Homo sapiens: one gene and its partners. The protein of the gene in region 1 purifies or fractionates together with the protein of each later gene. This does not show direct contact. Each region holds a gene or a part of one and is shown in the gene's direction. Other genes may lie near its edges.

Evidence for each region.
Region 2: the proteins of RAB43 (region 1) and TRAPPC6B purify together in Homo sapiens (affinity purification with mass spectrometry; one large-scale study listed by BioGRID and IntAct). This does not show direct contact.
Region 3: the proteins of RAB43 (region 1) and TRAPPC9 purify together in Homo sapiens (affinity purification with mass spectrometry; one large-scale study listed by BioGRID and IntAct). This does not show direct contact.
Region 4: the proteins of RAB43 (region 1) and TRAPPC10 purify together in Homo sapiens (affinity purification with mass spectrometry; one large-scale study listed by BioGRID and IntAct). This does not show direct contact.
Region 5: the proteins of RAB43 (region 1) and TRAPPC11 purify together in Homo sapiens (affinity purification with mass spectrometry; one large-scale study listed by BioGRID and IntAct). This does not show direct contact.
Region 6: the proteins of RAB43 (region 1) and CRY1 purify together in Homo sapiens (affinity purification with mass spectrometry; one large-scale study listed by BioGRID and IntAct). This does not show direct contact.
Region 7: the proteins of RAB43 (region 1) and CLEC16A purify together in Homo sapiens (affinity purification with mass spectrometry; one large-scale study listed by BioGRID and IntAct). This does not show direct contact.

What each region holds. Positions count from the first base shown.
Region 1 is NC_000003.12:129,090,805-129,095,056, reverse strand, and holds part of RAB43 (ras-related protein Rab-43), read left to right. Parts: coding exon 1-71; intron 72-2,463; coding exon of another isoform or gene 2,464-2,543; exon of another isoform or gene 2,544-2,557; intron 2,558-3,710; coding exon 3,711-3,961; 3' UTR 3,962-4,252. Other genes in the region: ISY1-RAB43 protein, read left to right, coding at 1-32. UniProt on the Homo sapiens protein: The small GTPases Rab are key regulators of intracellular membrane trafficking, from the formation of transport vesicles to their fusion with membranes.
Region 2 is NC_000014.9:39,150,068-39,153,829, reverse strand, and holds part of TRAPPC6B (trafficking protein particle complex subunit 6B), read left to right. Parts: intron 1-1,990; coding exon 1,991-2,084; intron 2,085-3,448; coding exon 3,449-3,480; 3' UTR 3,481-3,762. UniProt on the Homo sapiens protein: Component of a transport protein particle (TRAPP) complex that may function in specific stages of inter-organelle traffic.
Region 3 is NC_000008.11:140,451,097-140,455,348, reverse strand, and holds part of TRAPPC9 (trafficking protein particle complex subunit 9), read left to right. Parts: intron 1-3,965; coding exon of another isoform or gene 3,966-3,975; coding exon 3,976-4,252. UniProt on the Homo sapiens protein: Functions as an activator of NF-kappa-B through increased phosphorylation of the IKK complex. May function in neuronal cells differentiation. May play a role in vesicular transport from endoplasmic reticulum to Golgi.
Region 4 is NC_000021.9:44,098,932-44,103,183, forward strand, and holds part of TRAPPC10 (trafficking protein particle complex subunit 10), read left to right. Parts: exon of another isoform or gene 1-148; intron 149-165; coding exon of another isoform or gene 166-245; exon of another isoform or gene 246-1,135; intron 1,136-3,846; coding exon 3,847-4,041; intron 4,042-4,252. UniProt on the Homo sapiens protein: Specific subunit of the TRAPP (transport protein particle) II complex, a highly conserved vesicle tethering complex that functions in late Golgi trafficking as a membrane tether.
Region 5 is NC_000004.12:183,710,724-183,714,272, forward strand, and holds the end of TRAPPC11 (trafficking protein particle complex subunit 11), read left to right. Parts: intron 1-1,876; coding exon 1,877-1,921; 3' UTR 1,922-2,866; downstream 2,867-3,549. UniProt on the Homo sapiens protein: Involved in endoplasmic reticulum to Golgi apparatus trafficking at a very early stage.
Region 6 is NC_000012.12:106,995,567-106,999,818, reverse strand, and holds part of CRY1 (cryptochrome-1), read left to right. Parts: coding exon 1-268; intron 269-1,752; coding exon 1,753-1,904; intron 1,905-2,128; coding exon 2,129-2,331; intron 2,332-2,432; coding exon 2,433-2,525; intron 2,526-4,252.
Region 7 is NC_000016.10:11,125,478-11,129,729, forward strand, and holds part of CLEC16A (protein CLEC16A), read left to right. Parts: intron 1-501; coding exon 502-669; coding exon of another isoform or gene 670-803; exon of another isoform or gene 804-867; intron 868-3,893; exon of another isoform or gene 3,894-4,021; intron 4,022-4,252. UniProt on the Homo sapiens protein: Regulator of mitophagy through the upstream regulation of the RNF41/NRDP1-PRKN pathway. Mitophagy is a selective form of autophagy necessary for mitochondrial quality control.

The sequences.
Region 1 (4,252 bases):
CCTGTCGGTGCCTCACTGGATTGAGGATGTGAGGAAGTATGCGGGCTCCAACATTGTGCAGCTGCTGATCGGTGAGTTGGGGATTCCTCGGGACCACAAATCCCATCACTCTGCCTGTCCATGCCTCCCTCTGCTTTTTAAACACAGTGTAACCCTGAGTTCAGAGGGAGTCCCAGCCAGAGTTTGAGCCATGGTTTTGCAAATCCTGATCCTGCTAATCACTTAGAAAGTTACATTCAAGGCCGGGCACGGTGGCTCACGCCTGTAGTCCCAGCACTTTGGGAGGCTGAGGCGGGCGGATCACAAGGTCAGGAGATCGAGATCATCCTGGCTAACACAGTGAAACCTCGTCTCTACTAAAAAAATAAAAAAAAATTAGCCGGTTGTGGTGGCAGGCGCCTGTAGTCCCAGCTGCTGGGGAGGCTGAGGCAGGAGAATGGCATGAACCTGGGAGGCGGAGCTTGCAGTGAGCTGAGATCACGCCACTGCACTCCAACCTGGGTGACAGAGCAAGATTCGTCTCAAAAAAAAAAAAAAAAAAAAAAAAAAAAGAAAGTTATATTCAAAATTGGAATTAGAGGAAAGAAGAAAGAGAGCTGAAGTTTGCTCTGCTGTTCTTCACATGTGTCAAGATTTAGCTCTTGTACCCCGGCTTCTCCTCATTTGACAGGGGCTGGGGCTAGGCTCAGAAAAGTGCAGTGATTTATCCGGGTCCACATGGCCTGTGAGCATACACATGTAGGCTTTGAGTTTGCTTCTGCTGACCTCAAGTCTGTGGCTTTCTCTGTTGTGCCGCACACAGAGCAGGGACACTTGATGGCTTCCGTGCCTCAGAATCCCACAGAAGTCTTCTTCAAGTGCAGCTGCAGGGCCTCAACCTCCAGAGCATCTGATCCAGGCGGGCTGGGTGGGGCCCATGAATGTGCGTTTCTAACAAATTCCCAAGTGACACCCACCTTGCTGGTCCAAGGATCCCACTTTGAGAACTGCTGCTGTGGAAGGATGCTGTTTACCTTTGTTTTCCTTCTATATAACCTTCCCAGACCTGGACTGGAGAAGCTCTTTAGCTCTTATGTTATCCCTGGGGTCCTCACCCCAACAGGTTGATTCTTTTTTTTGAGACAGAGTCTTACTCAGTCACCCAGGCTGGAGTGCCGTGGCGTGATCTTGGTTCTGCAAGATCTGCAAAACCACTGCAACCTCTGTCTCCCTGGTTCAAGCGATTCTCCTGCTTCAGCCTCCCGAGTAGCTGGGCCAACAGGTTGATTCTTCTGACTCAAATGTACAGACAGGGCCTGGACCTGACTCCAGCCAGGAAGAGGGTGGTGCCTGGTTCCATGTGGCCTGCCTTCCACAGCCTGTTCAGACTAGGACATGGAGTGCTTGGCATGAACAGAGCTTTCCTCACGTAGCCTAACCATTTCCCCACCTTTTCTTGCTGGGGGTGGGGGACGGAGTCTCGCTCTGTCGCCAGGCTGGAGTGCAGTGGCACGATCTTGGCTTACTGCAACCTCCGCCTCCCGGGTTCAAGCAATTCTCCTGCCTCAGCCTCCTGAGTAGCTGGGACTACAGGCACGCACCACCACACCTGGCTAACTTTTGTATTTTTAGTAGAGACTGGGTTTCACCATGTTGGCCAGGATGGTCTCGATCTCCTGACCTCGTGATCCACCCGTCTCGACCTCTAAAAGTGCTGGGATTACAGGTGTGAGCCACCACACCCAGCCACCAATTCCCATTTATCCAGGACATTTCTGAAAAACATTCCAGCCTGGCATGGTGGCTCACACCTGTAATCCTAACACTGAGAGGCTGAGGTGGGTGGATTGCCTGAGTTCAGGAGTTCAAGACCAGCCTGGGCAACATGGTGAAACCCCATCTCTACTAAAAATACAAAAATTAGCCAGGCATGGTGGCACACACCTGTAATCCCAGCTACTGCGGAGGCCAAGGTAGGAGAATCGCTTGAACCTGGGAGGCGGAGATTGTAGTGAGCCGAGATCGTGCCACTGTCCTCCAGCCTATGCGACAGAGTAAGACTCTGTCTTCCAAAAAATAATTAATTAAAAAACATTCTATTATAGAACTTTTTTTTTTTTTTGAGACAGAGTCTCACCCTGTCGCCCAGACTGGAGTGCAGTGGCGCGATCTCGGCTCATGGCAAGCTCTGCCTCCTGGGTTCACACCATTCTCCTGCCTCAGCCTCCCGAGTAGCTGGGACCACAGGCGCCCGCCACCATGCCTGGCTAATTTTTTGTATTTTTAGTAGAGACGGGGTTTCACCATGTTAGCCAGGATGGTCTCGATTTCCTGACCTCGTGATCCACCCGCCTCAGCCTCCCAAAGTGCTGGGATTACAGGCGTGAGCCACCGCGCCCGGCCTATAGAACATTTTATACAGCTATGAAAATAGTATTTTATCTATTTATTTATGCATACTTATATACATACATATATTTTTAGAGATGCAGTCCTGCTATGTTGCCCAGGCTGATCTTGAACTCCTGGCCTCAAGCAATCCTCCTGCCTCAACCTCCAAGTAGTTGGAATTACAGGTGTGAGCCACTATATCTGGCTTAGAATAGTATAATAATGAGCCCCCAGGTACCCATTACCCTGCTTCAGCAATTAGCAACTGAAGTCCAACCTCCTCTCATCTGTACCATGTCACCTCCCCTCCCTCGGATTATTGAGACAAATTCACATCAAACCATTTCACCTGGCAGTATTCCAGCATGAACCTACAAAATATTTAAACACTTAAAAACAGCAATATTATTTTCTCATCTAAAAATACTGACATTTCCTTAATAATATAAAATAGCCAGTCTGTATTCAGATTTATAATTGCCCATAAAATTCATATGTGTTTTATTTTTTCCAGTTTGTTGAGATCAGGATCCAAATAAGTTTCACACTTTGAAACTGGTTGCTACATCAATTAAGGTTACCAAGGAAATTTTAGATCTTTACAGACTTTTTTTTTTTTTTTTTTTTTATGACGGAGTTTCGCTCTTGTTGCCCAGGCTGGAGTACAGTGGCACAATCTCGGCTCACTGCAACCTCCGCTTGCCACTCCTGCCTCAGGCACCCGAGTAGCTGGGATTACAGGCCCCCGCCACCACGCCTAGCTAATTTTTTGTATTTTTTTTAAGTAGAGACGGGGTTTCATCATGTTGGCCAGGCTGGTCTTGAACTTCCAACCTCAGGTGATCCACCCACCTCGGCCTTCCCAAATGCTGGGATTACAAGCATGAGCCACTGCGCTTGGCCCAGACTCTTTTTTTTTTTGTCTTCCTTATAACCACATTACAAAAGTCAACCATGTAGAGACTTTTAAAAAATTATTCTAGAAATTGGGTCAAGGAGCAATTTAACAGATTGTTTGGAATGTAATGAAGTCATCTCATACCATCTAGGAGGATCTGGGTAAATTGAGACGGGGTCTCACTGTGTTGCCCAGGCTGGTCTTGAATTCCTGGGCTCAAGCAGTCTTCCTGCCTTAGCTTCCCAAAGTGTTGGGATTACAGGCGTGAGCCACTGCACCCGGCCTAAAAAAGGTTTTTTAAAGAAAGACAGATGACCATGCCAGGGGTGTCCATTTATAGTGGTGGAAGGGAGTGGCATGGGGCTGTCAGCGTGACCCTCCCAGGTGGGACTGGGCTTGCCCAGCCCCCATGGCCTCATGCTGCCCCGGCTTTCCTCCGCAGGGAACAAGTCAGACCTCAGCGAGCTTCGGGAGGTCTCCTTGGCTGAGGCACAGAGCCTGGCTGAGCACTATGACATCCTGTGTGCCATTGAGACGTCTGCCAAGGACTCGAGCAACGTGGAGGAGGCCTTCCTGAGGGTGGCCACGGAGCTCATCATGCGGCACGGGGGCCCCTTGTTCAGCGAGAAGAGCCCCGACCACATCCAGCTGAACAGCAAGGACATCGGAGAAGGCTGGGGCTGCGGGTGCTGACCAGGGGCCGGGCCGGCAGACTGGGGGTTCCCCACCTCCTTGCTCTCCCCAGCCTGCCAAGCCCAGCCCTCCAGAGCCAGCCCTCCTGGGTACCGGCAACTACAGCAGCCGGGTGAAGCTCTGGAGCTCTGCATCCTGTGGCCTGGCTGCGGGATGGAGGCTCTCCTTGAGGAAGGGGAAGCAGGATACCCTGGCGGGCCACCCTGCCAGCCAGCAGCTGGCCCTCCACCATCTTCACATTCCAAGACTGGCCTGAACCCGCCGGTGTGGGCCACAGTAGGAGGGGCCAGC
Region 2 (3,762 bases), on another chromosome or scaffold:
GGGAGGCTGAGGCAGGAGAATCACTTGAACCCGGGAGGCAGAAGTTGCAGTGAGCTGAGATCGTGCTATCATTGCACTCCAGCCTGGGGTATAAGAGCAAAACTCCATCTCAAAAAAAAAAAAAAAGAAAAAAAAGAAACACTATAACTAAATGACAGTGAAATGTAGATGTATGGTAGATCACTTTTTTTTTTTTTTTAAGACAAGGTCTTGCTCTGTCATCTAGGCTGGAGTGTAGTGGTACAATCATGGCCTATCTTGACCTTGACCCCCCCGGGCTCAAGTGATCCTCCCACTTCAGTCACCCAAGGAGGTAGGACTGCAGGTGTGGGCCACCATGCCTGGCTAATTTTTAAAAAAATTTTTTAGAGATGGGATCCCACGATGTTGCCCAGGCTCGTCTTGAACTCCTGGGCTCAAGTGATCACCTCACCTCGGCCTCCCAGTGTGTTGGGATTACAGGTGTGAGCCACTGCATCCGGCCTGATTGCCTATTTTCTATATTTTTGGGGTATCCAGGCTCTAATTACATTTTTATGGTTAATGTGTATATTTTCTCTCTTTTTTTTTTTTTTCGGACAGAGTGTGAGACTCACTGCAACCTCTGCCTCCTGGGTTCAAGTGATTCTCCTGCCTCAGCCTCCTGAGTAGCTGGGATTACAGGTGTGCGCCACCATGCCTGGCTAATTTTTTGTATCTTTAGTAGAGACAGGGTTTCACCATGTTGGCGAGGCTAGTCTCAAACTCCTGACCTCGTGATCCACCCACCTCAGCCTCCCAAAGTGCTCGGATTACAGACGTGATTACAAAAGCCACCCAAAATGCTGGGATTACAGCCTCCCAAAGTGCTGGGATTACAGACGTGATTACAAAAGCCACCCAAAATGCTGGGATTACAGCCTCCCAAAGTGCTGGGATTATAGGCCATGCCTGGCATATTTTCTCTTTTTTACTAACTTCTTAGTTTAATATTTCTGGTTCTCACTTAACTTTTTGGGATCTTGGTTTCTTCAGCTGTGAAAAGAGTAAGTTGGACCAATTCAGTGATTTCTAACTATTTTGAGTTATGGACATCTTTGAGAACTGGAACACCTTTCCCCATAAATACGCACATATACATGGTTTTTATTTTCATAGGGGTCACAAATTCCCCGATTAAGAACTCTTGGGATGAACAATCTCTAAGGCCTCTTCCAGCTTAAAATTTCATGACTCAGATCTAGTTACTTATTAGTGCCCATTTATGTATATTATTTATAAGATAATATTTTATATTATTCGTAGATAATGTAGTATGTTGAACATCATGCAGTATAGATGTGGGTAATCAAAAATTCCCTGAATTGCTAATTTTTCAATCCAGTTCTTGTCATGACTTTTGGTTTTGTAGCTCAGCCCTATTCCCTTTCTTTGTTTCTATATGACAGGGTTTCTCAACGTCCAAACTGTTGATACTTTCAACCAGATAATTCTTTGTTGTGGCAAGCTATAAGTCTTGAACAAGTCAAGATTCTTGGTTGTAAATAGGGGAAAGAAATTCTGCTTGTAAGCTAACAAAATTGATAAGCTCAAAGAATAGGCAATAACCAGGGGAGGTTAAGGCAGCCAGTAAGATAGCCAAGTCACTCTGCAGACTGTATCTACTTAGAATCCTGCAGGCAGCAGGGACTGTAGACACAAACTACCTTTACTGCCTCCAGAACTAATTCTGATCAGTTTCTGGCTTGTTTTTGTCACTGAGTCTAGATTCACAGTCCTGGACTGGAGTACTTAATTGGCTGAGCTTAAGTCTTAAGTCCTACGTCCATGCTTTAGTTTCCAGGGAGCTGGGAAATATATCAATATTTTTCAGTAATTTGAACAGTTCTTCAAAATCCTTTTTTTAAACAGGAATGACTTACTGATGATAAATCATGTAATGTTGTATTTATCAATAGCTTTACTATTTTAGTAAATCCTTACTATTTTTAATGATTTTTTTTCCTTTTAGTATTTAGCATTTACGTGTGGCTTAATCAGAGGTGGCTTATCAAACTTGGGAATAAAAAGTATTGTAACAGCTGAAGTGTCTTCAATGCCTGCTTGTAAGTTGAATTCGCCTTTCTTACAAATGTTTTAGTAATTTGTTTTCAGGTCTGTTTTTTTTTTTAATTTAACTGAGAGGAAATTTAAAATGCTGAAACTTTCATTTTAGTTTTATCAATGTAACACTTTAGTGTAGTAATATGTAGCATACTACATTCATTTTCAGTAATTTTTGAATAATGGACTAAAATCCAAATTTATAAGACAATTTAAGGGATGATTTTTAACTTTTCTAAAGTTATTCAAACTGTAACTTTTTTAAAGATATTCTTCTGAATATCTCCTGCAGTGTTTTAAGATAGCAAATTTCCCTAGAACATTGAAAATGCTATTTTTTTTTTTTTTTTTTTTTTTTGAGACGGAGTCTCGCTCTGTTGCCCAGGCTGGAGTGCAGTGGCACAATCTCGGCTCACTGCAAGCTCCACCTCCCGGGTTCACGCCATTCTCCTGCCTCAACCTCCCGAGTAGCTGGGACTACAGTTGCCTGCCACCACGCCCAGCTAATTTTTTGTATTTTTAGTAGAGATGGGTTTCACCGTGTTAGCCAGGATGGTCTCCATCTCCTGACCTTGTGATCCGTCTGCCTCGGCCTCCCAAAGTGCTGGGATTACAGGCATGAACCACCGCGCCCGGCCCGAAAATGCTATTTTTAAACAATTGTTTAGGATATGTCTATTATATCAAGCTAAGTAAAACCAAATATTCTTTTATCACTAAATGTCTCCCTAAAGATCTTTTCACCAGAGCTACCAACCAAGAAAAAATGGACTTGAGCTTTATTGTATTTCTTTTCAATTTACAATGATCATTAGCCATGAAATACTGTACCCAAATGTAGGATTCATAAAGAGAAACAAAAGTGCTTACTCAACAAACCATATAATCATCCCATAAAAATAGAATTGACTGGCCGGGTGTGGTGCCTCACACCTGTAAGCTCAGCACTTTGGGAGGCCGAGGTGGGCGTATCATGAGGTCAGGAGTTTGAGACCAGCCTGGCCAATAAGGTGAAACCCTGTCTCTACTAAAAATACAAAAATTAGCTGGGCGTGGTGACAGACGCCTGTAGTCCCAGCTACTCAGGAGGCTGAGGCAGGAGAATCACTTGAACCCAGGAGGTGGAGGTTGCAGTGAGCAGAGATCGTGCCACTGCACTCCAGCCTGGGCAACAGAGCAAGACTCCATCTCAAAAAAAAAGAAAAAATAGAATTGACTTTATTGAATATTATGAAGAATGCGAAAAAGTTTTTGACATAGCAGATTTCTTGACTGAAACTATTTCCTATATGGAACAGAAAATTGATGTTTAGACTTGTTTTCTTTGTATCTAAAATCAAAGAATTATTTGTATTTTTTTTTTTAGGCAAATTTCAGGTGATGATACAGAAGCTGTAGAACATACTGAAATGCAAGGCTTCAACAGTGTAAAGAGATAAATTATTCATGTAAAAGTATTTCAAGTAGTGATGATTTAATTACATTGTTCGATGTTTGTACAGGAGTAAGCATGTATTTTTATCAATTTAACACAGATCAAAGGAGATGAAGGGACATTCTGCCATGACATACACTTAACCAAAACTATTCAAAATGAAAACCGGATTTCAAATAACCAGACACCAAGATGCAGGGCCCTTATTTTAAACCTTTTTATTTGGTTAGAGTGATATGTATTTA
Region 3 (4,252 bases), on another chromosome or scaffold:
CCAGCCTGGACAACATGGCAAAACCCTATCTCCACGGAAAATACAAAAATTAGCCGAGCATGGTGGCTCACGCCTGTAGTCCCAGCTACCCGGGAGGCCGAGGCATGAGAATCGCTTGAACCTGGGAGGCAGAGGTTGAGGTGAGCTGAAATCCTGCCACTGTACTCCAGCCTGGGTGACAGAGCGAAACTCCATCTCAGAAAAAGAGGAATAATACTGCTATGTACATTCCTGTACATGTTTCTGGTGTGGACACATGTTTTCAGATCTCTTGGATTGCTGGTTTTATAGTAGCTCTATGGAGGAACTACCAAGTTGAAGATACATATTTTTGCTGTTTTAATACCTGTATTAGCTTAGTCTCAGATACCAGAACTGGCTCAGTGGCAGGTGTCTTTTTTTTTTTTTTTTTAAAGAGTCTTACTTTGTCACCCAGGCTGGAGTGCAGTGGTGTGATCTCAGTTCACTGTAACCTCCTCCTCCCTGGGTTCAAGCGATTCCCGTGCCTCAGCCTCCCAAGTAGCTGGAATTATAGGTGCATGCCACCAAGCCTGGCTAATTTTTGTATTTTTAGTAGAGAAAGGGTTTTGCCATGTTGGCCAGGCTGGTCTCGAACTCCTGACCTCAGGCGATCCACTCGACTTGGCCTCCCAAAGTGTTGAGATCACAGGTGTGAGGTCAGGTTGTGTTTTTTTTTTTTTTTTTTTTGAGAGGGAGTCTTACTCTTATTGCCCAGGCTGGAGTGCAGTGGCGTGATCTCGGCTCACTGCAACCCCCATCTCCTGGGTTCAAGCGATTCTCCTGCCTCAGCCTCCTGAGTAGCTGGGATCACAGGCATGCGCCACCACGCCTGGCTAATTTTTTGTATTTTTATTAGAGACCGGGTTTCTCCATGTTGGTCAGGCTGGTCTCCAACTCCTGACCTCAAGTGATCTGCCTGCCTCCGCCTCCCAAAGTGCTGGGATTACAGGTGTGAGCCACCACACCCGGCTGATTATGCTGCTTTTTAGATGAGACGATAGTTTTTATTTTTAAATCATTTTTATTTATTAATTTTTTTGAGATGGAGTCTCGCTCTGTTACCCAGGCTGGAGTGCAGTGTTGTGATCTTGGCTCACTGCCTCCTCCACCTCCTGAGTTCAAGCAATTCTCCTGCCTCAGCCTCTGGAGTAGCTGGGACTGCGGGTGTGTGCTACCACTCCTGGCTAATTTTTGTATTTTTAATAGAGATGGGGTTTTGTCATGTTGACCAGGCTGGTCTCTAACTGCTGACCTCAAGTGATCCTCCCGCCTCTGTCTCCCAAAGTGTTGGGATTACAGGTGTGAGCCACCGTGTCTGGCCGAGATGATACTTCTAAAATAAGGCCCTTTGTTACCTGCGGTGGGCCGCGCTCTCCTCCTCTGTAGAATGAAGGCTTCGGTGTTTCTCAGCTTCTGTTAAACCTGTGCCTACTTTTGAGAAACATGAGCGCTCCAGTCTCCCCCGCTCAGTATTTTGATATGTCCTCCGAGGGGTTTTATGCCTCTTTGTTGGAAGGTGATGTGATTTTGGTTCTTTCGAAGGTGGTTTTTGTGTGCAGAAAAGACTCTTTAGGGAATCGTTGTGGGGAAAGGGCAGGAGAGAGTGGGGCGTCGTCCTTGAGAGCGTGAGCACTGGAGTCAGGGACTTGGGCTGAGTCACACACATGTAATATACTTGTGAACCGTTTAGATCCTGGGCAGAAGCAAGACATGTTGGGAGGCTAGGGTTTCCTTTTTTTAAAATTTAATTTTGTTCATACTTCTCTATCCATGTGTATTTTTGAAGTCTGTAGAGGTGGGGTTGTGATGTCCAGGATAGCCCCCGACACACAGTCCTCCTCCTCTCCGTGCAGGTGAGAAGCTTGCCATTAGAATTTCACAGAGGTCTTATAGCAATGTCACTTTAATCTTAGTGTCACCTGGGAGGGTTTTACTGCCACGATCTCTGCAGTCAGGCTTTGGTGACCTGAAGGTTATGCAGTTTTGGGCTTCCTATTTAAGAAAAAGAAAACAAAATTAAAAATGCAAAATTAGATAGAGGGCCATGGAAGGGGCCTGAAGCTGAACCCCATTAGCTCATGGTACAGCTGCCTCTGGCCATGGGGACCATGGCCAAATCCCCTCAGGAAGTGTCAGCCCACTGATGGGGACAGTGGAGGTGTGTATCGAGGCATCTTTTTCTTATTTGATACAGAGAGCTCATTTAATCTCCCTAACCTTTAAAAAAATTAGACTTTTTATTTGAGACTATAGTAGTTGTAGCTCCATGTGCATTTGTCAGAAATAATACTGAGGGATCCTATATACCTTTTGCCCAGTTTCCCCCCGTGGTGCCATGTTACAAAACCACAGTATGTTATCACAACCAGAATGTTGACTTGCTGACACCTTGAGGTATGTGTTACTATCCTCATTTTTATTCACAATGAAACTAGGGTTCAGGGAAGCACACAGGCTTGCTCCAGGTCACCCAGATCGTGCGTGTAGAGCTGGGAGTTGAATATCGGCCCTGACTTCCAGGCAGTGGGATTTCCATCATGACCGTCTGTAGGCTGGGGGCAGCATTCATTGGATTGTTCATTTGTTTGTTTGTTCACTAATCCCTTCAACAAACATGTATTGAGGATCTCCTATGAGCCAGATTCTTTCACGTGGGTCATCTAATTTAATTTTTCCCCAGCTCTGGGGAATCAGGTAATAACGTTTTCTTTTTATATCTGACAAAATTGGCTCAGAGAGGTTATGGCAACTCTCCCATTTATAAAGGAAAGGTGGTATATTTGTGTAATCTCTCCTTTTATGTTAGGCACAATGCTAGGCCCTTTACATTCGCAACCTCCTCAATCTAGATACAGTTTTATAAGGCAAGTTCTTTTTCTTTTAATTCTTTTTTTTTTTTTTTTTTTTTGAGATGCAGTCTGGCTCTGTCGCCCAGGCTGGAGTGCAGTGGCGCCATCTGGGCTCACTGCAAGCTCTGCCTCCCTGGTTCATGCCATTCTCCTGCCTCAGCCTCCCAAGTAGCTGGGACTACAGGTGCCTGCCACCACGCCGGGCTAATTTTTTGTATTTTTAGTAAAGATGGGGTTTCACCATGTTAGCCAGGATGATCTCGATCTTCTGACCTTGTGATCTGCCTGCCTCAGCTTCCCAAAGTGCTGGGATTACAGGTGTGAGCCACTGCGCCCCGCCTCTTTTTTTTTTTTTTTTGAGACGGAGTCTCACTCTGTCACCCAGGCTGGAGTGCAGTGGCGCAATCTTGGCTCACTGCAGCTTTCACCTCCCGGGTTCCAGTGATTTTCCTGCCTCAGCCTCCTGGGTAACTGGGATTACAGGCACGTGCCACCACACCCGGCTAATTTTTGTATTTTTAGTATAGGTGGGGTTTCACCATGTTGGCCAGGCTGGTCTCGAATTCCTGACCTCAAGTGATCCGCCAGCTTCGGCCTTCCAAAGTGTTAGGATTACAGGCATGAGCCACCATGCCCGGCCAAGACAAGTTCTATTATCACCACTATTTTGTAGCTGAGGAGTTCCAGGGAGCCCGGAATTCAAATCCAGATGTGATTGCATGGTGGATTTTTCTTAATATCCTGTTGAGGGGATGGGGGAGCAATTACACACGTGTTTATTCATTCACTCAACAGACATTTTTGAGCACTGACTCTTACTACTCCTGGTTAGGTGGTGAGAATAGAAAGACAAGAAACAGCCCCATTTCTGTAGAAGCTCCATGCTGAGGCCAAGGGACTGAAGGTCAACAGTTACAGCATTATGATCAGAGCTGCGACAGCCACGTGTAGAGCCCTAAGACCTGTTGATGCCACGGCTTTCCTTGGGGCTTCCCCTGCCTCTGGGTAGTGAAGGTCACAGTCACTGCCTCCCAGGGTAGGCTCTCAGCACTCAGGACTCTGTGTCTCACAGCCTCATTTCTTCTCTCTGAACAGGGACTTCAAAATGAGCGTCCCTGACTACATGCAGTGTGCTGAGGACCACCAGACGCTGCTCGTGGTGGTCCAGCCTGTGGGCATCGTCTCCGAGGAGAACTTCTTCAGGATCTATAAGAGGATTTGCTCTGTGAGTCAGATCAGCGTGCGGGACTCCCAGCGAGTCCTCTACATCCGCTACAGGCACCACTACCCACCCGAGAACAACGAGTGGGGTGACTTCCAGACCCACCGCAAAGTCGTGGGCCTCATCACCATCACAGACTGCTTCTCGGCCAAGGACTGGC
Region 4 (4,252 bases), on another chromosome or scaffold:
TCATTCATTTTTAATCAGACGTCTACCAAATACCCAACACTGAATAACTAGCTTCCCCAGCGCTCTTGCAAGTGAAAAGGGCGTTCTGTGAAAACAGCGGCTATTTCAGCTCGCAGCACCGAGCGCTCCCCGTGTGCTTTCCCTGAGCCAGCTGTCATTCTGCAGCAGAGACCCAGAGAATGTCAAGAACACAAGCACTCAAGAATGGAAATAACTCAAACGTCCTTCAGCTCGAGAGCGGTTAAACTGGCACATCTGATTCCTCCTCAGCAGTGAAACAGAAGGGACTGTTGACACACGCAGTGCTGTGGTTGGATCTCAAGGGCATTATACTAAGAGAAAAACGCCAGTCCTATAAGGAGGTGTACTGTGTGATTCCATTTCTAAATGACATCCTCAAAATGCCAGCCTCAGAAGGAGAGCGGGTCAGTGTTCCACGGAGCAGTGGGAGGCAGCAGGAGGCCGTCCTCTGTGGTAATGGAGAGTTCTGGGCCAGGGCCGCTGTGGTTGTTACACGAATCTACACATGTGACAAATGCCATAGAATTAGACCCAAAGAATGCCTGCGAAAGCTGCTGAAATCCAGTGGGGTCTGCAGCCTGGTTCACTCTGTAGTGAAATCCAGTGGGGTCTGCAGCCTGGTTCTATCTGTATTGAAATCCAGTGGGGTCTGCAGCCTGGTCCACTCTGTAGTGAAATCCAGTGTGGTCTGCAGCCTGGTTCTATCTGTATTGAAATCCAGTGGGGTCTGCAGCCTGGTCCACTCTGTAGTGAAATCCAGTGGGGTCTGCAGCCTGGTTCTAGCTGTATTGAAATCCAGTGGGGTCTGCAGCCTGGTCCACTCTGTAGTGAAATCCAGTGGGGTCTGCAGCCTGGTTCTATCTGTATTGAAATCCAGTGGGGTCTGCAGCCTGGTTCACTCTGTAGTGAAATCCAGTGGGGTCTGCAGCCTGGGTCACTGTATGGTACCAGTGTCAGCTTCCTGTGTTACACGAGATGGCACAGTTGGGTGAAGCTGGTGATGAAGGTATGTGACCCCTCTACTACTTTTACAACTTCTTGTGAGTCTATAAACATTTCACAATTAAAAAAAAGTCTACTCAGGAGCTGAATTTAATAAAATGAGCACTTTTGACTGCTTTGTGAAGCGTGGCATTTTTTTTTTTGTTTTTTTGCTGTGAGTTCATGGTAGTAAAGAACATGAGTGACATGACTGCGCAGTCTGGCCCGAGTTCATGCCATTGTGGTTGCCCCAGCAGCGCGAGGTCAGCAGCGTAGAAAGGCAGCAGTGTGAAAGCTATGAGCTTGCGGGTGCCCTGAGAGCCACACTCTGAGAACTGTCACTCCTTTGCCTTCCTCCTGACACTCCTAGGGCCTCTGCATGTCCTGTAGTAGCTCCTGTCCTCAAAGGTCCCCCATCCCCAACTACAGGATGTCCACCTCCCTGAGCCCTTCTCTGCTGCTCGTGGCCTTCTGGTCACTCACTCCCCCTGGGCGGTTGCTCGGTATCCTCATGATGGGAAGCTGTGACCTCTTTACCAGGTCTACTGCTACTGGATGGCAAGGATCCTGTCTTGCTTACTTTCATATCTCCAGGGCTAGTCCCAGTGAATGATCACTTAAGTGTTTGAATTGCATTGAATTACATGATGGTTGTGTTTTAATAATTAATGTTAATAATAACACCTGCCATATATTAAGACACTACCATGTCCCAGGAGTGGTACTAAGTGCTTTACATACAAGGGGTCTTCAAAAAAATCATGGAAGATACGTTATGAAAAAACTATGCATGGATTTCAACACTTTTTGCACCAAAATAAGCTCCTACTCACTGAGCAGGATCTAGTTTGAGGCACTAAGAAGGATAAGACATCAGTTTTAAAAGAGCCCCTATCAGAGCAACATGAATTCTGCTAAAATTAAATCAAGAACCAACATTGGCCGGGTGCAGTGGCTCACGCCTGTAATCCCAGCACTTTGGGGGGCTGAGGCAGGCGGATCACCTGAGGTCAGGAGTTCAAGATCAGCCTGGCTAATATGGCGAAACCCCATCTCTACTAAGAATACAAAAATTAGCTGGGCGTGGTGGCAGGCGCCTATAAGCCCAGCTACTTGGGAGGCTGAGGCAGGAGAATTGCCTGAACCCAGGAGGCGGAGGTTGCAGTGAGCCAAAATTGCGCCACTGCACTCCAGCCTGGGCAACGAGCAAAACTCCGCCTCAACAACAACAACAACAACAAAACAACCAACATCAAATTTATGGTGAAGCTTGGGTGGAAGAATGGTGAAATCATTGATGCTTTATGAAAAGTTTATGAAATTCTTTGGACAGTGCCCCAAAGAATTAGTAGTTTGCAAATGGATATCTTGTTTTAAGAAGGGACGAGATGATGCTGAAGATTAAGGCCATAGCAAGCAGACCATCCACATCCATTTTCAAGGAAAAAATTCACCTTGTTCATGCCCTAATTGGAGGGAACTGACAACAGCAGAAATGACAGCCAACACCGCAGACATCTGAACTGGTTCAGCTTATGCAATTACGCCTGAAGGGTGAGCAAGCGTTCCACTCAGTGGGTGCCAAAACCCTAGTACCCAGGTCCGTGGCCGACCAGAGCAGAGCTTCCCATGGAAACTTCAAACACACGGGATCAAGATCCTGAAGCATTTACTCAAAGAACCATAACAGGAGATGCAGTGTGGCCTTCCCAGTACCATCCTGAAGACAAAGCAGACACGGCAATGGCTACCAAGAGGTGGGGTGGCCCCACCAAAGCAGAAGCAGACTGGTCAAGAGCAGAGGCCACAGCAACAGGTTTTTGGGATACTCAAGGCATTTTGCTTGTTGACTTTCTGGAGAGTCAAAGGACAGCAGCGTCTGTGTATTATGAGATTGTTTTGAGGAAGATAGCAAGAGCTTTGGTAGAAAAACCCCTGGGGAAGCTTCACCAGAGAGTCCTCCTCCACCACGACAAAGCTCCTGCTCATTCCTCTAACAAGCCCAACTTCGTGAGGGTTTCTATGGGAAATCATGAGGCATCCACCTTGTGGACCTGATTCGGCTCCTTCTGACTGATTTTGGTTTCCTGATCTTAAGAAGTCTTTAAAAGGCACCCATTTTTATTCAGCTAATAATGTAGAGAAAGACTGCGTTGACATGGCTAAATTCTCAGGCCTCCCAGTTCTTCAGGGATGGACTAAATGGCATCGTAAGCAATGGCATCATTGCTTACAAACATGTCTTGACCTTGGTGGGGCTTATGTTGAGAAATAAAGCTTATATTTTCTGTTTTCATCTTTGGATTCCATTTTTGCATGAACTTTTTGTAGTTCCCTCATACGTATTCTCTTTCCATCCTTAAAAAGCAGCTCTGTGAGGCTGGTGGTGGTCTCAGCACTATACAGCGGTCATTGAGCCTGGAGGCCTTGGGGTGCTCTTCTGAGTGGCAGAGTTGGCTTCAGACCCAGTGGTCTTGGATACTGCCACTTACCAGACAGAACCCATTAACTGCCAAAGTCACCATACTGTGGAAGATGACACAAAAATTTGAAAACAAAATTAAATCATTTATTAACCTCACAGGAAAAATGCAGTTTTCTGTACACGTCCAGCATAATTCATTCTAATCCAGAACTAATTGAAATTGGACTCAATGAAATAGGGGTTGCCACCGTGAAAGTGCATGGCTTTATCTTCAGGCGCAGCTACAAGGCACTGGGCTCTGTGTCCGCAGTGTTTTGTCAGACAGCGTTGGGTGAGAGGATTGGGTAACGACGGCCGTGACTCTCGCCTGAGTACTGGAAGGCCCGTCCTGGATGACACATCGCTTCCTCTCGTTTCAGTTGTCGACAACAGTAGCAACTGGGCAGTGTGTGGGAAAAGCTGCGGTGTCATCTCCATGCCAGTGGCTGCTCGGGCCACTCACAGGGTCCACATGGAAGTGATGCCGCTCTTCGCCGGGTATCTCCCCCTGCCCGACGTCAGGCTGTTCAAGTACCTCCCCCATCATTCTGCACACTCCTCCCAACTGGACGCTGGTAAGGACTTTGGAAGAAAAAGTTTACCTTCAGTATTTGAGCAGGTGAGCACTTTGTGCGAGAGGTGATAAACTTATGACTGAGCAGGTTGGAGAACTAGCGGCGTGTTTTCAGTGCCGGTAGAAACTGGTACTAGAAGCCTCATCCGCTGTTAGAATCTTAGGCACCTGCTCTGAAAGCCAAGCCTCTGTGCACAGAGTGCTCTGTAAAG
Region 5 (3,549 bases), on another chromosome or scaffold:
AAAATTTATAATTAAAAAATTTTGGCCGGGCGTGGTGGCTCACGCCTGTAATCCCAGCACTTTGGGAGGCCAAGGCTGGTGGATCACCTGAGGTCAGGAGTTCGAGACCAGCCTAGTTAACATGGTGAAACCCCATCTCTAGTAAAAACACAAAAATTAGCCGGGTGTGGTGTGGTGGGCGCCTGCAATCCCAGCTACTTGGGAGGCCGAGGCAGGAGAATTGCTTGAATCTGGAAGACAGAGGTTGCAGTGAGGTGAGACCATGCCATTGCACTCCAGCCTGGGCAACAGAATGAGATGCTGTCTCAAAAAAAAAAAATTGCCATTCTACAGTGTATATATAGTGTACATATTTCAAAACATCATGTTGTATACCGTAAATGTCTACAATTTTTTTTTTTACTTGTCACTCTAAGGACAGTGGCTGAGGATTACCCTTTCCCACTTATTGGACAATCACTGACTAAAATTTTAGGTCCTAGTGCACCTGTATTAAACTTTAGAGCTATGCTGTCCGGTATAGCCACTAGCCACATGTGACTATTGAGATTCAGTTTAAATTAAATTTGCTTAGTTACACTGCCACATTTCAAGTGCTCAATCGCTAAATGTGACTAGCGACTGCCATACCAGACAGTGACGTCCTAGGCAAGGATGAATCCATACTTTTCTTCCTTTGAATAAAAGGCTTTGGTTTTCTAATTGTATGATGCACTCATTTTTTGCTCTTGCTTGTAAAAGCTACATTTGGCAGGGATTTCACTAGCTTGAGCCATGATTTTGTTTCTAAAATTGAGCAGCTCCCATCAGTACTAAAAAAACAGTCAAGAATCAAGGATCGGGAACCTATTTCACTCACTCCATTCCTGCCGTGAATGTCTGGAAGCTATACTTAGCTATGTTTCTGTATGTATGTACACACACACTGCTATATACATCTGAACAACCACAGCAGCAGCAAACTGAAAGCAGGAGTGCTGTCTTCACTGCCTCGGGAATGCCTCAGAATCTTTCTGCTTAAAGCATAGCAAATCACTTTTGATTGTGAACACTCTTCTGTTTCATTTCCTGATCATCTTTCTCCTGCTTTCCCCACAAAGGTCTGCTATTGTATATCTGTATAATAAAATAAAATTATTTGTAAGAATTGTATTCTTTTAGCTACTAGCTATCCCTCTGGGATGTTGTTAACCTGCCAGAAATTTTACAACTAAAAACAGTTACGATACCTTTTATTCATTCTTAGTCTTGACTTTTCTGACGTGATGTTTTAAATTCTTTCAATCAGTGATCTTAGAGATAGGGCAGTTTTTGTTTTTATCTGCCACTTTTATCCTTGCAGCATGCATTGGAGTTCACTGCAGACACTTTTTCTCAAACAGGAGATTGGGCAACCTTGAGTCCCCAAAAGGAACTTACCTGTCAGCTCAGGCTCTGGACCTGCTTAAAGCTTGAGACACAGGAGGGCCCTGAGCAAGAGAGAGAGAATAAAACTATCAGTTAAGTAGGAATGATAAACAAGGTTCCATTCCACATGTGGGAGATGGCCTGGCAGTAGCTGCTGGAACGCAGGGTTGAGAGAGAAGTACTGACAGAAGAGGATTCTTCGGGTGGAAGTGCAGAGTCAGCTGGTGATGGCTACAGGAGAGGGCAGCTCCCAGCCTGTGCCGTGGCCATCCCCAGGTGCAAGTGAAGAAAGAAAGAGGTGGGGTGAAAGGAGGAGAATCACCATATCACCATTTTTATTTTGATGCTTACACTCATTTATTCTGTTTTTGTAAAACAGTTTCAAGAATTTAAAAATCCTTCCAGTTAATAGAGCTTTTGTTATTATATTATAATTTTGTAAACCCACTTTGTTTTTCCCACTTTAAAGCCACAGGGTCGACTCATGGATGATACCTCTATTGCTGCTGCATGATGTTCAAGACCGGCCCTTGGCTGTTGTTACAGAGATGTTGGGCAGAGCTATGCAGGTGTTTCATTGTGAACTCTAGCTTTGATCATGGTAAAAAGTTAACCTTTTCTATTTTTTAATGGATGTTATACCAACTATTCAGAGGAACTCATACTTCAAAAATATTAGGAAAATCTGTCTTATAGTTTCTCTAATAAATATCTGAAATCTCAGTACGACATGAAAGAATGTCAGACCATTGTTATTGTTGAAAGTCATTTGATGAATGGTAAATTCTATGAAAAGTAAGTGATTTGCATGTATAATATCAGGAAAATTAAGCATCCCAAGTGTGACTGGACAAAGAGAGCAGATGCACCAGTGCCTGTGCCATAAAGTTCCGAATCCCCCATGTGTCTCTTTCAGAGCTGGCCAGACCGGAAATAAATCATTCTCATAAATTCAGTGTGTACTCAGAACACATACACAACAACATAGGGAGTTGTATGACTGATACGGAAAACTTCCAGAAAGTTTTAATCAAAGCAGTTTAATTAAGGTATCAAAAATATCTTTGCTTACTATCAAGAAGTGTCAAATAGGTTCAGCTTGCTGCCAAAATATGGATCATTTATGAAGCAGGTTCATATTTTAGAGGTGTTAATAAAATCCTCATCGGAAAAGATCCAAAGTGCAAGGATTTGATTATAAACATAATTTCCTAGACTGAAAGTTTTTGGAAAAGATGCAGGGTCTGAGTCAGGCCTTCTGGTTATATTGTGCAGTTTCAAAAGAACTATTTAAAACTCTTGAAAACTCATGTAAATAAAAATCATAGGGTGAAAATTGTATTTGTTAAAATACCTTAATAATTTAAAATGACCTGATTTCCTGGAAAATTTTATTATTCAAAAGGTGGAGGCATTGTAAAAAGGAAATAGTGATGTAAATAAACATGTTCTCTTTCAAGTATGCTTGTCTGTCTCTATCTTTTATTTTGAGCTTGTTTGATTTCAGCTTCATGGAACAGCTTTTACTAAGAACACTGTTGCATGAGATGCAATGGCAAGCACAGGATTGAAAATTGGGCTGTGTTCTAGAACTGGCTCTGGTAACATTATGTGAGAGTTGGACAGTGCTATCTTGGGAGGACATGAGCTCCCTGTTGTAACATGGCTTTTCAGGTAGAGGCCATGGAGCATGACTCTAGAGTCCAGCTGTCTAGGATCAAATCCCTCCTCTGCTGCTTTTGTCTGGGTGACGTTGTTCAAGTTCCTTACCCTCTGTGTATCTCAGCGTTCTTGTATATAAGATGTAAATAACACCCATCTTATAGGCTTGTTATGAAGGATGATATAGATTCATACATGAGAAGAGCTTGGAACAGTGCCAGACCCAAAGTTATGTATGAGGGTGCTCAGCCAGTGTCATCTATATTTTTATGGGAAGGCTGAAGAGGGTATTCACTTTTCTACTGGAGAGTTCCATGTTATCAGAATTTGTTGATACATTTTACATAATTTACTACATATATGAGTATACATGTGTATGTAAATACGTGAAACTATAAACAAGTTTCATAGAAGAATGCATTCTGTGTACTCTTACATATTTTGTATCCTACTCTGTTTTGTTAAAAAACATCCCTGGTT
Region 6 (4,252 bases), on another chromosome or scaffold:
GTTATGGCGTGAATTTTTCTATACAGCAGCAACAAATAATCCACGCTTTGATAAAATGGAAGGAAACCCTATCTGTGTTCAGATTCCTTGGGATAAAAATCCTGAGGCTTTAGCCAAATGGGCGGAAGGCCGGACAGGCTTTCCATGGATTGATGCCATCATGACACAGCTTCGTCAGGAGGGTTGGATTCATCATCTAGCCAGGCATGCAGTTGCTTGCTTCCTGACACGAGGGGACCTGTGGATTAGTTGGGAAGAAGGAATGAAGGTAAGTGTTCTAACTGATATAGCATGCCTTATTTTGAAGGAATCCTTACCTTAATAAAACAAATCCTAGAAGTTGTCTGTTTATAGATTCATTTATGGTGTAGTTTTTCAGTGGATAAAACATTTAATTCCCCAAATACGGGGACACTTTCAGAGAAAAATGGTATAATCAGACAAGCAAAAAGGTGAAAACTGGTTAAATTGATTAACCTAAAGTCATTTTAATGGTTAAACCAGCCTAGCCACTAAGAGAACTGTAAAATTTAACACTGAATTTGTTGATAGATATATTTATAGGTGATATTTCTATCACGAAAAGAATTCACTAAAGAGTTCCTAGAGATAGTGAATTCATATTATAAATTTTAAAATATAAATCATTTCACCTCACTTCTCAGCTTTTTAGTAATACTTCTATTATGTAAAGAGAAGCATACTACATTTTGTGACGACATCTTGTGGATTACACGTAATAAGACTTAGGTACTTTTTTTTTTTTTTTTTTTTTGAGACGGAGTCTCTCACTCTGTAGCCCAGGCCGGGGTGCAATGACGTGATCTCAGCTCACTGCAACCTACGCCTTCCAGGTTCAAGTGATTCTCCTGCCTCAACCTCCCGAGTAGCTGGGATTACAGGTGCCCACCACTGTGCCCAGCTAATTTTGCATTTTTAGTAGAGAGAGGGTTTTACCATATTGCCCAGGCTGGTCTTGAACTCCTGACCTCAAATGATCCCCCTGCCTCAGCCTCCCAAAGTGCTGGGATTACACGCATGAGCCACCGTGCCCGGCCATTACGTACATTTTTTACCTTTCTGGCAATACCATACATTTGCCCCATCCAAGGACCATTTCTGAGCTTGTGTGTGTGTGTGTGTGTGTGTGTGTGTGTGTTTAATCTCTTATATTTCCTAGTACACCGTTGTATACAAAGACAATATATAACATACTTAATGAATATATATAAAAATCATTTATTTTAATTCTATTTTCTTTCTGATCAAGGAATTCGAAATTAAACTATGTAATGCTAGTATATATTTTTAAGTGAATTTATATTTGAGTATGCTTCCTTTATTTAGGCTAGAATATGAAGCTAAGTTTTTGTTGGTGTTTTATGTAATAGCATTTTTGCTTTCTTGAAAGTGGTTGACTGCTTTTCCTGTGTCTACTAATAATATCCTTTTAAATCCACATCCTTTTAAATCAGTGATTTGAATATTTTTTTTACCTTCCATTCTCCCAGTAACACTGCAGAGGTTGGAAAAGTAAATTCTCTTCAGAAGCATACTATATTACCACTATGTTTCTTTCTCTGGAAGAGCTCATTATAGAACAGAACATAGGGAAGCTAACTTTGGAATGTTTAATTTTACAATTCTGTGCTAGATTTTCTTTGCCTTGACTTTGGCTCTACTGTGACCTTGAAAATGCTTGCTTTGCGAATTATGTGTGTGCAAACTAATTGGTTACTGTTACTTCTGAAGGTATTTGAAGAATTATTGCTTGATGCAGATTGGAGCATAAATGCTGGAAGTTGGATGTGGCTGTCTTGTAGTTCCTTTTTTCAACAGTTTTTTCACTGCTATTGCCCTGTTGGTTTTGGTAGGAGAACAGATCCCAATGGAGACTATATCAGGTAAATCAAGGGTGATTACTACTCAGTTTGGAATAGTTAATTCAAGAAGAGCTTTTCATGTTTAATCAATGCTTAAAGTATTCCCCACTCATGATGGGCAGCAGAGATGAGAAGGGTAAACAGATCATTTAAATGGTCTTGATTTGATTTTGGTCTGTCATAGCTAGTAGTTATAGTTTGCTTAGAGTGCATTTTATTAGTAATCTTTCTTTTTTCTCCCAAAGGCGTTATTTGCCTGTCCTAAGAGGCTTCCCTGCAAAATATATCTATGATCCCTGGAATGCACCAGAAGGTATCCAAAAGGTAGCCAAATGTTTGATAGGAGTTAATTATCCTAAACCAATGGTGAACCATGCTGAGGCAAGCCGTTTGAATATCGAAAGGATGAAACAGATCTATCAGCAGCTTTCACGATATAGAGGACTAGGTATGTTAAGAACTGTCTTTGTTTCTTTGGCAGCTGTTTATGTACTTATCTTTGAATTTTATCTTGATCATAATTTAAAAGAAAATTTTTTTGTCCTTTAGGTCTTCTGGCATCAGTACCTTCTAATCCTAATGGGAATGGAGGCTTCATGGGATATTCTGCAGAAAATATCCCAGGTTGTAGCAGCAGTGGAAGTAAGTGAAAAGGAAATTTCTGCACTTAGTAACATGAAGAGGTTATTAAACAAATATATTTGTTATTGATCCTCACTAACATATTTTATAAAAATCTGTCTTTGAAATTAGCTTAATAGATTCTTTGTATGCATGCATACATGTGCACCCAGACACATCTCTTCACTCCATTGATGACATTTTAGAGATGGAAAATATCATTACGTATAATAGATACTGGGTCAAGTTAAAGCTCTTGCAAACTGAGGAGAGCAATTTTAAGGATAAAATGAAACTCAAATGTCATATTTTCAGAATGCTTATTATTTTTTACTCCTTAGGTGTATGGCAACTATAAGGTAATTAGTTAAGAAAGTCAGTGGCCCTGTGAACATGGCCAAAAGATTTATTGTACACATGCATAGAGCCCTCTAGTCTTTTTGCACATAAGTTTTTCTTATAAAGTCTGGTCTGTAGTAGTTTTCTGTATGATACAAATTTAGTGACCATGTAAATTCTTATGTGTGATATTAATAATTTCAGGAACTCAGTATGTGTTAGAAATTTGAACCATCATATTAGTTTTTGGCTTTGACCAAAAATAGCATGAAGCTCAGTAATTTGATTAAAAAATAGGACAGCATCAGTGAGAATGGTGATTATTAAAAAGTCAAGAAACAACAGATGCTGGTGAGGATGCAGAGAAAAAGGAAGGCTTTTACATTGTTGATGGGATTGTAAATTAGTTCAACCATTGTGGAAGAGAGTGTGGTGATTCCTCAAAGATCTAGAAGCAGGAATACCATTTGACTGAGCAATCCCATTACTGGGTATATACCCAAAGGAATATAAATCATTCTGTTATAAAGATACATGCACACGTATGTTCATTGCAGCACTATTCACATTAGCAAAGACGTGGAATCAACCTAAATGCCAGTCGATGATAGACTAGATAAAGAAAATGTGGTACATATGTACCATGAAATACTATGCAGCCATAAAAAGGAACGAGATCATGTTCTTTGCAGGGACATGATGGAGCTTGTAGCCATTATCCTCAGCAAACTAAGGCAGGAACAGAAAACCAAACACCTCATGTTCTTGCTTGTAAGTGGAAGTAGAATGATGAGAACACATGGATACATGCGGAGAACAACACATACTGGGGCCAGGTGCAGTAGCTCACACTTGTAATCCCAGCACTTTGGGAGGCCGAGGTGGGTGGATCACCTGAGGTTGGGAGTTTGAGACCAGCCCCTGACCAACATGGAGAAACCCCCGTCTCTACTAAAAAGACAAAATTGGCCGGGCGTGGTAGCGCATGCCTGTAATCCCAGCTACTTGGGAGGCTGAGGCAGGAGAATCACTTGAACCCAGGAGGCAGAGGTTGTGGTGAGCTGAGATCGCGCCATTGCACTCCAGCCTGGATAACAAGAGCAAAACTCCATCTCAAAAACAAAAAACAACAAAACACACATGCTGGGGTCTGTTGGGGGGGCAGGGGCAGGGAGAGCATTAGGAAGAATAGCTAATGCATGCTGGTCTTAATACCTAGGTGATGGGTTGATCTGTGCAGCAAACCCCCATGGCACATGTTTGCCTATGTAACAAACCTGCACATCCTGCACATGTACCCCAGAACTTAAAATAAAAATTGAAGGGAAAAAAAAGAAAAAAGAAATCTATACATGTGATAAAAGAGCATAAAATCATACAAACACTTTGTATCAATGTCAATACCTGGT
Region 7 (4,252 bases), on another chromosome or scaffold:
GGGAGGTTAGTGGCTGAGACAGATAAACACCCACTCAGAGTTACACATGTACATGCACATCCATATTTTCGCATGCTCCTGCACATGTGCGGATATACATACACACGTATACGTGTGAACTCTCTGGGCAGACTCGGCCCCACTCGCTTGGGGTCTGAAACAGCCTTTGTCAGGGTCCTTTACACATGGAAGCTGAGAATCCAAAGTGGAAATTGACCCAGCTTCCATTCCACTCGAGGAGCCCAGGCTCAAACCCCTTTCTCCTTGGTCTCAACCTTGGCCCGAAGCCCTCACTTGGCTTCCGCTTGTGCGTTGAGCCTCAGTGGGAACTTTGATGTTCCACTGGTCTCTGCAGCTTGAGGCTGCCTGCCGCCCACTTGGCGTCTCCCAAGTGATGTGCCTGGCAGGGCCACAGCCACTACGATGTCCCCCCCCCCAAATTCTCACCACCCCCCTCTATCCCACATGCTCAGAGTGAACCATGCTATTGTTTGACCGTAGCCCTCCTGGACCTCCCAATCCAGCCCACCACTGAAGTCCTGGGGTTTGGACTCGGCTCCTCCACCTCCACTCAGCACCTGCCTTTCCGCTTCTACGACCAGGGGCGCCGGGGCAGCAGCGACCCCACAGTGCAGCGCTCCGTGTTTGCATCGGTGGACAAGGTGCCAGGTGAGCCAGCCCCCCGCCCTGCGCCACAGCTCGTTCATCATGGTGGGCGTTCAAGGTCTTTCTCTCTGTGGAGCCTGTGTGAGCTGCCCTTCCTCTCTCAGAAGCCCCGTCGGCTGGCAGCACCAGCTTCTTAGAATTTGTCAAAGCACAGCGCAAGATTAAACACAGCCCCCAAAATAAATTTTGGCTTTCCCTTTAGTGTTTGGTTTGGTTTTCCAGAGATTTGTTGGGTATGTGGAAGAACTTCTCAGAATTGACTAAGAATTTTCTTGGAAATTTCTTGGAAACATTTAAATGATTAGTGCTGAAGTTGTGGGAGAGTAATTTCCTTCTCCATGTAAGATGACTAGAAAGAGAGAGTGTGTTTGGTTCCGGTTACAACCCCCTGAAGAAGTGAGACTTCAAAAGAAGGCCGTGCTGCCCACAGGTCAGCTGTCCACTCCTTCCATATGAGGGCGTCTCCTCCCACTTTTGCCACAGCTCATCTCTAACCCTGCTCCTCCGCTCCTCCCAAAACAGAAACTTGAATGGAAAGTCCATTGCTGATTTGTCAGAGTGGAAAGGACCACTTCTCCAGAAGACCGAGTTCTCCCCTTCCTGTTCTGACATGTCTGCTTTAAGTAAATCCGTATGCACCCCGATCCCTCGAAAGAGAGCCTTTCTTTTGGTTGCAAAAGTTTAGAGCGCTGGCCAAGCTCTCCCTCACAACTTAACCCCTCCCCATATAGGGCTTCAAACTTAAGTTGCAAGTGTTGTGAAATGTTTTCAAAAGCAGTTATTGATTTAAGAACAAAACGCAGCCATAGGAACCTGCTCAAAACCCGAGTCCTGGTTCCCCCATGTGATTTATTTTAGTTTCATTGTTTGATAATTCATTATTTATATGTATATACCGTAGGCATATGATTTTTTAAAATCCAGACAGGAGATGATCAAATGAAAAATAAGTCTACTTTGCTTCAGAAGTAACTATTGTTAACAGTTTCTTGCCTGTCTTTCCAGAAATATTTCTTTGTATGTCATGCATATGTTTGTTTTTTACACATGGGGTATACCGTATGTCTGATGCTGCACCTTGCTACTTCTTCCTTAATAGAAAGTGTCACACATTAACACGTATAAATCAACCTAATTCTCCTTAACTGTTACATGGTATTTTGTCATATGGATGGGCAAAAAAATCTTTTTTGCTGTTTCGTATTTGGGTCATTTCCAGTGTTTTGCTCTTACAGTGTCACAGTGAGCATCCTTAGGGTGTCTTTGTGTAATTGTGCAAATTTCTCATGTCTGTGTGATAAATTCCTAGCAGTGAATTTGCCAAAGGGGAAGGTTTTTAATCTTGATATATGTAGTCCCAACGTGAACTCTAGAAAACAGTACACCAATTCACTCTGCCACCCACAGCTTGTGATTGGTTTCTTTCTTAAATCCAGTCTCAGGGCTGGGCATGGCGGCTCATGCCAGTAATCCTAGCACTTTGGGAGGCTAAGACAAGGCGGATTGCTTGAGCCCAGGAGTTTGAGACCAGCCTGGGCAACACAGTGAGACATCGTGTCTAGTATAAATAAAAAATTAGCCAGGCATGGTGGTGGGCACCTGTGGTCTCAGCTACACTCAGGAGGCTGAGGTGGGAGGGTCACTTGAGCCCAGGAGGTTGACGCTGCAGTGAGCTATGATTGTACCATTGCCCTCCAGCCTGGGCAACAGAGTGAGACCCTGTCTCAAAAAGAAAAGAAAAAAATAATCTTAGGCTGAGAGACTGATTGTGGCACCGCCTGTTTTCAGTGATGAAATGTGAGATGATTCTGCCTGTTTCAGGGTCAGGAGGATTCTTTGCTTAAAAAATTCTGCAGGTTGCTTCGTGTTCTGTGGCTATGATTGCTAAGTAAATATAAAGTGTGACTGAGTCTAAGTTAACTAAGTACAAATTGACCTGGTAAGAAATGACTTCTTTAGGGTCATTGAGGCGTCTTTCAGTTTCGGAACTTACTGGTTAAAGAGAAAAGCCCAGGCCTTATTTCTGTTCTGAGCCCTTTTGGAACAAGGTAGAATGTAAATAAATACATGGAGCCAAGCGGCCCATTCTTCAGCATCTACATGATCATTTCTCTGTTTGCAGAATGCTTTAGGATGACTTATTGCTTACCTCTTCTACCCTGCCTGGCCTTCCACCGGTGGGTGAGAACATCAAATGCCAGGAGTGTGGCCCGGCTCCAGAACCTGGGCCTGCCTGCCGGGGTGGTTGGCACAGCTGGGATGCCCCATGTCCTGTTGCTGGTCCCAGGGTCAGCAAGTGTGAGGCTGTGCCAACTGGGACAACAGCAAGTCAGAGGTGGCTGCTGAAGGCAGCATCCACCCCTTGGCTGTGTCTCCCCTGACTGCCCCTGGAAGTGCCACTCAGCTATGAGGAGTGAGATGGAGACATTCTTATTTATCACACCACCCCCGCAAAGAGGGAGGCCTCGCTGCCCTCCCACCTTGGCTTGGCACCAGAGCTGTGTCCTGAAGAGCAAGTTGAAATCCCTGAGCCTTGGCATGGTGGGAGCATAGGCTGCCCCCACCCCCATCTCAGTAGTCAGGGTCCCCCACAGCAGCAGCCACTCAGCACTTTGGAATCATTCTTAAAACTTTTCACCCTGCTTCCACACCCACCAGCCTGCTTGGCCTCCAGAAAATACTGAGATCCGAGATCTCCTCTCCCAGATCTCCCAAGATTGCAACAGAAGCCTTCTCAGGATCCCTAGCTTCCATTCAGCCAGTGGGATCATTCTAGTACTTAAATCAGATTACGTCATACCCCTGCCTCCAGCTTTTTGGTAGTTTCCTGTTGCACTTAGAACAAAATCCACATCTCTCCTTCTGATCTTGGGTGGTGGCTGTGAGATCCGGCCCCAACTGGCCTCTCAGATGAAGTTCCCCCAACCCCAAGCTCACTCTAGCCCCAACCCCAGCCTTGCCAGCCCCTGCTGCTCCTCTAAGCTAGCATTTCTCAGAGTTTTAGCCTCAGCACCCACGTGTTTATCTGCTTAAAAAGTATTACAGAACTTAAAGAGCTTTCATTTAGATAGATTATATTTATAGATATTTATGACATTAGAAATTAAAACTAAGAAATGCTTTCAATATATACTTCTTGAATAAACCCATTGCATATATGCATAACTAACATAGTTTTCTATGAACAATAACTCTGTTTTCCAAAACATAGAAAAAAATTGATCTTGCACATTTCTGCAAGTCTCTTTAATGCCTGGCTTAATAGAAGACATCTGGATTCTCCTCTTTGCTTCTGTTTTCTGTCTGTTGTGATAGCATGCATTCTGTGGCCTCTGGAAAACTCCTCAGTACACCCCTGGGAATATGAACATAAAAGAAAAATGTCTTACTATTTTTATGAAAACAAGGATTTCCAGACCACACTTTGAGACCCACTCCTGTAAATCACTGTGGCCTTCCCTGCCCCAGGGCCTTGCACTGGATGTCTGTACCCAGATGTTGGTGTAGCTGCCTCCCGCTAACGGCTCAGGCTTAGTTTGTGTGCCGCCTCTTCAGTGGCCTTTTCAGATCAGCTCCTGGCTAGGGT